Linked DNA regions of Homo sapiens. The protein of the gene in region 1 interacts with the protein of each later gene in a pairwise test. Each region holds a gene or a part of one and is shown on either strand. Other genes may lie near its edges.

Region 1 (5,258 bases):
TGCACATTTTAATCAATACTTTTTGACTGAAATGAAGTAAATATTCTGAGTATATTCTCTACCTCAGTCCCTGTTTACTTATATGTTCTTGTCTTTCACCTCATAGCTTTATGAAGACTGAATTTCATGTTTAAAACAAGAAAGAAATCTTATTTTAAGGTTGTAGAGGCCGATTTTTTTGATAAAATGCTGGCTAGACAAATGTCCTTTTATCATTTCCATGAAGAAAGGTTTTCTAACCATTGTTCTCAGCAACATTATTACTTTTTAAAATGTTTTAATGTAATTGTGCTTAGGAATTATACTGTTGTCTCAGTTTCCCTCCTACTCAACAGCTGGACATATTTATTTTTTTTTTTTTGAGACGGAGTTTCACTCTTGTTGCCCAGGCTGGAGTGCAATGACACTATCTTGGATCACTGCAACCACCGTCTCCCGGGTTCAAGCAATTCTCCTGCTTCAGCCTCCGGAGTAGCTGGGATTACAGGCTCCCACCACCACGCCCCGCTAATTTTTTGTATTTTTAGTAGAGACAGGGTTTCACCATGTTGGCTAGGCTGGTAGCGAACTCCTGACCTGAGGTGATCTACCTGCCACGGCCTCCCAAAATGCTGGGATTACAGGTGTGAGCCACCACGCCTGGCCAAGGCAAAACTATTTTTATCAATCACTACTGTTCAAAATACTGATATTTTTGGATATAAAAAGTATATTGTTATATGAAAAGAATGATAAAGGTGTTCTGTTTATTTGAAAGCACGGTTTAATTAAGATAACTCAAAAAGGCAATTGAGCAACAAAAGTCTAGATAAGGGACTGGGAACTTAGTTTTAAAAGAATTCTTTTTGACTAAGTTTCACTGGATGTCAGCATGATGTTGGAATGGGACTTTTCAATGCTCCTTCCTTTACAGAATCACTAATTTGAACAATTATCCATGCACGAAAATGCCTTCACAAGAGCTAAGGAAACCAGGTGAGAGATTACAGCACTTGGGTAGATTACAGAAATAAGAAAAGACACATTAAAGAGGGTAGGAAAGATAGTGTCACATTGCTCATGGACCTCTCTCCCAAGCCTAGATAGCACAGCCTGGAGACAGATACCCTCCCTGTGAAGGAAAGAGAGGGAAATGACCATAGAAATTAGCCTTGGACCCAACACTGGATGCCCTTTCTAAGTAGAACCCAGCACCGAGCAGGCCCCCATGGCCTCAGACTTCAGACCAGTACCTGAAGACTGAGCTTCCAAGTCTGCTCTGGCACCAGGCCGGATCTGACAGCCTCTGGCTCTAGGCCAGCCCATCAAGTCTCAGCTCACTGCCCCTCCAGGCCTGCCCAGTAGCCCTAGTGCTAGTTCAAGCCCCACAGACTCAGGCTAGGCCCAATAATCACACTCGGTTTCCAGAGTTTCTCTAGAGCTAGGCTGGCCCCAGTGTTCCTGGGCTCTGGATCCCCCCAACACCAAGCTGACCCCCAGGTTTCAGGCTTGTCCAAGAACAAGGTGAGCTCCACAGCCATAGTCATCAGGGAAGGACCTGTGGACTCAGCCCCGAGGCCAGCCTCGGTGGATACAGGCTCCAGGTTCACTCAGTACCTGGCCAGCTCATGTAACCCTAGGCTCACCTTTATTCCAAACCTATGTTTTAGGACCCATAGCCTTTAAAGGTTCTTCCCTCTTGTCCATTACACCACTTTACCAATCACTTCAATGGCAAAATTTCCTTCAGTTCTTGTATATCAGCTTAGTAGAGTCATAGAGTAGAATACAAACATTGCTACATATATAACTAGCAAAGGGCTTAAATCTAGAATATATTTTAAAATTCTAATAAATAAATAAGAAAATGCTAGGTAATTCAGCAGAAATATGAAAAAAAGACCTAAGCCACTTGAAAGAGTGAATAAACAACCTCTTTAAAGTGCTCATCCTCACTTGCAATCAAGAAAATGCTAATTTAAACCACGATAAACTACCACCATACATTCAACAGAACATTCAAAATTTGAAATCTATCCAACAGAAGATTATTCAATATGCTTCAAGAAACAGTACAAGAATGTTAAGAGCAGCCAAATTCTCCCTGTAGCAAATAACCTATATGATCATATAAAGTTTATTAGATAAAGTGAATGCTATGTATTAATGAAAATCAGTACTGCAAACTACATCCAACCACAAAGTTCAATTTTATGAATATAAATTTAAAAATCCAGAAACAAACAAACTGTATGATTCTCTCTAAGATACACACACACACACACACACACACACACACACACACACAGTGCTCCTCAATTCATGATGGAATTATGTCTTGATAAAGACATTTTGAGTTGAAAATATCATCAATTGAAAGTGGATTTAATACACCCTACTGGCAGAACATCATAGCTTAGCTTACCCTGGCTTAAACATGCTCAGAATACTTACATTAGCCTACAATTGGGCAAAATCATCTAACATAAAGAGTGTTTTATAATAAATTATTGAATATATCATGGAATGTGTTTGATAATGTACTAAAAGCATAAAACAGAATTGTTGTATGACTATTTGTAATATTGTATCCACTGAACGTATGTCTTTTTTGCACCATTCTGAGGATGAAAAATTGAGTCAAATTATTGTAATTCGGGGACTATCAGTATAAACAGTCATGTGCTGCAAAACAGTGTTTCAGTCTATGTTTAGATACATAAATACTTACCATTATGTTACAGTTGCCTAAAGTATTCAGTCCAGTAACAGGTGCCATTTTGTAGATCAGGAGTAATAGGCTATACCTTACAGCCTAGGTATGTGATAGGTTGTACCATCTAGATTTGTGTAAGTACAGTTTATGGTGTTCGCACAAGGACAGAATCACCTAATGGCACATTTCTCAAAACATATCCCTGTCCCTAAGTGACACCTGATTGTATACACATATGTACACATTTATTTGTATGTGTGTATATATATATTTGTGTGTATATCTAGATTTATACATATTTTATGTGTATACATGTTCAAAAGCAGGCATAAAAAATGCATAATTGAGGTATACAAATATTAATATAAAGCAAAGTAAGAAAGTTAGTGTTTAATTCAAGACAGTGATTACTCTTAGGGAAGAGGGAGGGGGTTATGATGTGGCATGAGGGTGTGAAGCTTCTAGTAATATCTTGTTTCTTGATGTAGGTAGTAATCTCATGGCTATTTCATTTACAGTGCTACATTAGGCTCTGCATTTATATTTTGTGTTCTTCTCTCAGAAGGAAATACCCCTTGTGATATGTTGCTTTGTGAACAGAACTATGCTGAGGCTAATCCAATTATGAAATGTACCTTTCATATCTCAGGGTAAATATGGGCTTGAAATATTATTATTACCATTATTCATATTACTATTACTATTTGCAAATAAAATACAATTATTAGCAAAGATAACTGCATAAAGTGCTGTCTCCTAGATGACTGAGTACACATCACTGCAAATCCAGAGTATGTTAAAAGGAATATCCTCTGATAGTGTAGTCTCAAAATCCTCAGTTATTTTAAATTCTTGCTGCAAAATTTGTGGGTAATATTACTACTTTATATAAAATGATATATATGTATTTTATTTAAAAAGATGGACACGAAAATGGTTAATTACAGAATAAAAAGGTTTTTGAGATGAAAGCATACTTACAGACATCAGTGATAAGGACTTGGTCATTTTTATCCACCTTCTGAAATATGTCCAGCAATGCATGCTTATATTAGTCGAGTAATGGTAGATATGTACTTCCTAAGACAGTCTCCTCCAGAATTTTTATTAAACTTTTTAATTAATTTAAAAATTATTATATAGATTCAAAACCTGGCTCTCCAGTGATATGTGCTATGTATCTGTGGAGATACAGAGAATAAATGAATATCTGCAACTACAGATCAGAACTTCTGTTAGTGACAGAGAGACCTTCTATCTAGGTACATACATCATTCCTTATACTTGTGGAAGTTACAAAGTCGAAGAAATTATGCTGTAAAGTGAGATTAGAGACATTTTTAAAAATTTTCTATAGCATTGGAAACTTCAGGATGAAAGAGAAAAATGGCAAAGTAGAACTAGAAAATTATGAGCCTTGCTGAAATGTTCACTATGTCCACAGCTTGTGGTTATTTACTATCTCCGTATTCTAATCACCCCAAAGTGTCTATTTTTTTAGCAAAACTTCTCTTGTGCTTGGCTCTAGGGTGCAAATCCAAGAGGAGATGAGATATTTAAGGAAAATAAAATTGTATCTTTCAATATTTTAGAACTGCTCAAGTCAGGTTAAAAAGAACAATGGAATCTTAAAAAGGAAGAGAACATTTACCACAGAACAGTACTAAGAATAAATAATAAATGAGAGGATGGAGATCGTCCCACTCATATCCAATGGTTCTAGTCAATGTACAAGACAGACAGAGGAAGATTAATACATTGCAAGCCCTTCAGAAATCCCTTATTGAGTCACTACAGAATTATTTAAACTGCATAAGAATGGAACCTCTACAGTTTAGGAACTGTATACTTGTTGGTTTCCTTGATTTTCTCTGATATGGACAAAAAAATTAAAGCAAATATCCATTTCCTTTATTTCTCCTCTGTTGTCTGTGATTACTCCCATGTCTTCTTTTAAATCTTGGGAGTTCCCACCTAGATTACTAATTCCAGCTGTTCTTGCCTTCTTTCAGCCAGAAGTGAAGGGCACCATATCACCTTTAGTAGGTGGAAGTCATGTACAGCGATTGGAGGTCGATGTAAAAATCAATGTGATGATAGTGAATTTAGGATTTCATACTGTGCAAGACCTACAACTCATTGCTGCGTGACAGAATGTGACCCTACGGACCCAAATAATTGGATCCCAAAGGACTCAGTAGGGACTCAAGAATGGTACCCTAAAGACTCACGTCATTGAAGAAATCCATGCACAAGAAGATGATACATCTGAATGAAGTCCTCTCATTATTTCATCACTTCATTAATGACCTATAATTTCCATGCATGCATACCTATAATGAATAAATAATTAAATAAAATATATTTCAGCTGGACATTTTTATAAACATTGTGCTTGCTTAGAAGAAAGAATCAGAATACAAAGCAGGGATTTGAACTCTGGAATAGAAGCAGCGTGGAGAAGAAAATCCATGATGGGACCGCTAAGTTTAGTGAGATTCTGGGGCCAATTCCTTATTTAGTGTGAAAAGCATATTATGAGTCATTAGTGAGGTATTATCAA
Region 2 (5,524 bases), on another chromosome or scaffold:
AAATAATGTGGACAATAATACAAATAAATTTGTTTTTAACAAACTCTTTTAAGCACATGGAATTCTCTTGTATTATTTATTATTTCAAATTTTCTTTCTCTTAATCACTATGGAATAGTTATGTTGTTTTTGTTATCAACTTTATTTCAAAAATCCAGACTCACATTCACTTAAACAGGTAACTGATGTTGACGCCATTGTTGTTCTTTAATTATGGGCATAAATAAGTAGGAAATCCTTTATAGTAGCTCCTTCCTAAATATAATTTATATTCAACTGTTGGTTTATTCCCTTTCCTTTAGAATTAGATTTTTTTCTCACTAATCTCTTGAGTTGACACAGATAATTATAACATATGTTCCATCACTGACTAGTCCAGTTTAAAGAATAATAGAAAATGTGAGTTCAAATATTCTTGAGCTATTTGTAAGTTACTCCTTGGATCACATTTTGGGGCTCAGTAAAACCATTTCTTTGCAATTTAGATAAAGCCAGACCTATGAAATTCAGAAGGAAAATTCAAGCTGAAGGTTCCTATATAAAATAATCCAAAAGGACAAATTTTAATGCATATATTGCCAAGTATCAACTCTCCAAACCTCACAATAAGGCACAGATAGTTGCATGAACTTAGTCTATTTGAGGACTTAGTATCTTCAAATTGATCCCAAACAGTTTAAGAGCGTGGGCTTAAATGAATCTATCTTCACTTTATATATGTCAAATTATTCTTTTTAAATATTTATTTTCAGCCTACCCCTCTTGTATTCCCATGGAAGGAGCTGAGTATATTTAATATTAGGAGCACATCCAGAAGTCTTTGAAGAGGGGGATGGCTCTTCATATTCATGAAGCTTGCATACTTCTGTTGGTCATCCCTGGATTGGTCACCTCTGCTGCTATCAGTCATGAAGACTATCCTGCTGATGAAGGTGACCAGATCTCCAGTAATGACAATCTGATCTTTGATGACTATCGAGGGAAAGGGTGTGTCGATGACAGCGGCTTTGTATACAAGTTGGGAGAACGATTTTTCCCTGGGCATTCCAACTGTCCATGTGTCTGTGCTCTAGATGGACCTGTTTGCGACCAACCAGAATGCCCTAAAATTCACCCAAAGTGTACTAAAGTGGAACACAATGGATGCTGTCCTGAGTGCAAAGAAGTAAAAAACTTCTGTGAATATCACGGGAAAAATTACAAAATCTTGGAGGAATTTAAGGTATGCGTTACCCTCCATATTTATTGAAATATCAACTTTTCATACCACGTGCTTAGTACATTGCTACATTAAAGTCAGAGTTGGAAAAATGTACTTTAAAATTTCCCTTTAAATTATACAATTTGATTCTAATTACCATAAGTAGCACCATGGTCAACAAATGGCCAACTGGTTTGTTGATCATATTTGTTAAGTTGCACAATAACCTTTATTTTTTTTCCCAGAAGTATTTGGGGCATACCTAACACCTTTTATTTTTGCCCTTAAACATTTCTTCTCTGTTATTACAAAATATGTTTTCTGATGGGAACAATTTTGTGTATAGTGTATGTGTCTCCTAAATTAATTTTTTAATTGTGTCAGTTTTGTGTGTTGCTTATTAGCCTGTATTTGAAGTCATTTAACAATATAGTCTAGAATTATTTGTTTATTGTGTGGAAAAGCTACAGAGATATACTTCTTAGCTGTGGTCCTCATATTAAGAAAATGCATTGGGCCTACTTGTGGTCAAGCAAGATCCCCATTCTGTTCTCTGCTCGCTGGATTTTTTGCTTTCAGGATTCCACAGAGAACTGAATTTTTATCACAATCCATGTAAAGAGTAGTAAAAAAGACTGTAATTTTTTTCAGCCTACCTGGTATTTTTTAGTTTTTCTTTTACGCTTGCGTCATATTTTCAAAGTAGCTTAGAGTTCATTTTTATCCCTTATTGAACTTTCTTTTCCCCAATGGCTAGTTTTAATTGGGATATCCTACAAGCCTGATCTGAACCCTGAAGGTATGAATACATGAAAAATGTCCACCTTAAATGTAATGGCAGTTTGTGCCTGGAGTGTCTGTCATACTGATGGCTTTATATAAAATGTTCCCATTTCATCTAACCAAGTTCTGTGATGAGGTGCTCAGAACCTTAGAGGTAAAAGCAGATATAGCTAGTTTTCAGTGTGGGTGTTTATGTATGAGAGAAGACATTTCCATTATTAGCACTGACCCAACTTCTCTCACCACAAGGGTCAAATGGTGCCAGAAATCAGTATGTAGAAAAAAGGTCTCAACTGATCATCATTAGCATAATCTGTGTATTCATAGTTAATTGTATTTAGTTCATTATTAACCTGGAATGAACCAGGTTAGCGGTTCAAGCCAGTTCTGATTTACCCAAGAATACCCAGTCATTGGAACTAGATTCCTTAGGACAAAAGGGAAATTTTAATTGTGACATTCAACTTCCTTAGACATGTTATTCTCGACTTTTGTCTTTCGTGTATTATTTTATTGCACAAAATTAAGAAGTAAAAGCATGAGAGTCTAGTAAAAGTATCATTGTTGACACCAAATAATAGTTGAGAGTAGAGTACATTTATTAATGGTTTTATGATCTCTAAAATATTGTATATATTTTGACATTACCTATTTTTAATGTCATCTTAATGGAAGTAAGTAGAAGTACTCAACACACTTGATTCTAGCAGTCATATCACCCTTTTCTAACCTGCATTTATATCTAGACTAGAATACAAAAGGGTATTGTAGGAACAGCGTTTCATAACTAGCACAAATAAAAACATAAGTTTCTGAGATTTATATAATTTGGTAATCTGTATTTAATAAAGAAAATATTGTCTAACTTAACTCACTATTGAAAATGCTATAGTTTTCCCTCTATTTATTAGATTTTACTACAAAGATAATAACTATGTTACCATGTCAAACAATATAGAGGTATTTAAAGAAAAAGTTAATAATTTCTGTACCCCTTCTCGTTATAACCCTACTATAATCTAATTAATCCCTACTACTTCTTTCCTAATGTATGATCCATTAATATGCACAGCTTTTTCACCTGGCTTTTTGTGTCATAAAATTTTTGATGTGATTTTTAAAATAATAGATATCACTTTTTTTAACAAGAATTTAGAGTCATAAAGAGTTTTAGAGACTATATAGGGCAAATGTGTCAGAATGAGAAACTGAGACCAAAAAAGTATAAATTACTTATCCAAAATTGTCAAGTTATTTATCTTAATTCTAAATGCTGCCATTCTAACATACTATATGATCTCTCAAAGCAGTTTGTCACTAAGGTCAGATAGACTTGGATTCGAATCCCAAATTCATCACTTGGATATAAATTTTTGAATGGAGTTCTTAAACTTTTTGATCCATAGTGGTATTGACCATAAAATAGCCATTGTAATAATCACTTTCCTTAGGAGGAGAGGTTGGAAATTCTTAATAACATATAATTTCTCTGAAGTCACTAACCTTGTGATGACGGGTACACAATAGGTATTAAATAAATGATTGTCCCCTCCTTCTTAACTCTAATATCCAGGGATTTACTCTAAATTCTAAATTCCTCTATGGCTTTGCCTACATTTTATAATGAAAGTTCAACTTTAAAAGACTTTCAAATGAAGAATTCTCATACCTTTTTAAAATGCTCTACTTATCCCTATGAACCATACAACTCTAAGTAAATATTAGCCATAATCTGTCATCTTGATTCTCTTCCAACTCAGCTTGCAAGGAACAAGTCATTAATTATTAAAGATGCATAAAACTTTCATATAATAATGTTGATATGTCAATTAGGGAGGTTGTATTATGAGATAATCTTCACATAAATATATTCATCCAACAAGCATTTATCAGACCGTTCAGTAGATAAGATACTGTAGACGTACTTACAATTGAAAGTAGGATATCTAGAAACCAAAATCTCTGCTCACAAGAAAGACATGATCGATGTGAAGAGAGAAGGGGGAAAAAGCAGGTAAAAGTTAAGTATATGATTATGAAATCCCAATATAACTCCCAAGAGATTGTGATGGCAGAAGCTTATCAAAATAGTATGAGGCTTGGTTAAGCAAGAGATTTGTCTTCAGGATGCTAACCCTATACATCTTGTAGAGCTGCCTGTTCTTCAAGAAGTACTTGAAATTGATCTGGGAAGACTGAAATTCCAAAGACGAAACTGCCAGAGCAAAATCAGAGATTGGGATGAATACAGTCTGCAAAGAGGAGGGAGATGGGTATAATTGGAAGCTAGATATGACTAAAATGCTATCCTAGTAAGAGGCAAATTCAGATATGTGTCGGTGGAGAGTGGATGGAAGGGCCTTGAATACTGGGCCAAAATATTTAGATTCATCTGAAGAATAATAGGAAATAAAATGCGGATTGTTCTGTACATAGATGACCTAGTTAAACATAAATAAAAATGAATGTCCTATATCCAAGCACAGAATTGAATAGAAGTAAAGAGAAATTAATAGTGGAGGAAGGAAGTCTGTTGCAGAAAAAAAGAGAATGAGGTGCACAAGCACAAAGACATTCAGGACAGTTTTCAGGGTAAAATCTAATTTCCCTGCTGTAGCCTAGATTCTACTCATCAACCTCTCCAAATCCCTCAAACTCTTGGTGGCTTTTTTTCCCTGTGTGTTTGCACTGCTGTTCCACAGTATGGAACACTTTTTCAACATTGCTCCCTGTTTAAATCCTACTGGACCACTTCAAGGCTCCATTTAAATCTCACCTCAACTGGAAACCCCTCTCTGTCTGTCCTACCTCATATCTCCCACACTGTATCACTCCTTCCGTATGTTCCCACGGCCTGCTATACACACCATCACTACAAGAACAGTAACTGTTGTCTGATACTGTGAAGAGCTTTATGTATATTATAACACATTTTATTTTACAATAACACTGTGAGAATTATACTTTTATTAGCACTGTTTTACGGATAAGAAAACTGAAGCAGCAGAGTGTAAGTAACTTGTCCAAGACCATACAGCTGGAAAGAGGAAAAAGTAGGACTCCAAGCCAGGCAGCTTGACTGCAGAATCTAAGCTCCTCACCACTTCTAGTGATCTACCCCACAGCAATAATGTAATACATCACACTGCAATAATATTAAATCATGTAAAATATAATATGAAATAATATCATATGAAACCACTCGTCTCTTCCATTAGTCATTGAACCCTTCGAGGCTAGCGACACTGTTTTCTTTTTTCTTTTCCCCTCTATTCCCAACACCGTGTGAGCTATGTAACAGTCATTTAATACCTTTTTTGATGAATAGCATACCAGGTCAAATTGTAATCAAACCTATAGGATAAAGAAGTTAGAATTTCTTTAGAATGATTTAGTTTCTGTTTATGTGTTGATCTCTTCATTTTAATTAAAGAAGCACTGAAAGTTGAGACAAAAAATGCTCTTTGGGCAGTTAAAATGGCACACATTGTTCTCTTATGATAAGACTGCCTATTTTCGTCCTGCCTTTACTTTCTTCCT

Evidence for each region.
Region 2: the proteins of DEFB112 (region 1) and VWC2L interact in a two-hybrid assay, tested with the Homo sapiens proteins (one large-scale study listed by BioGRID).

What each region holds. Positions count from the first base shown.
Region 1 is NC_000006.12:50,043,251-50,048,508, reverse strand, and holds part of DEFB112 (beta-defensin 112 precursor), read left to right. Parts: intron 1-4,707; coding exon 4,708-4,934; 3' UTR 4,935-5,258.
Region 2 is NC_000002.12:214,413,362-214,418,885, forward strand, and holds part of VWC2L (von Willebrand factor C domain-containing protein 2-like isoform 1 precursor), read left to right. Parts: intron 1-752; 5' UTR 753-832; coding exon 833-1,222; intron 1,223-5,524.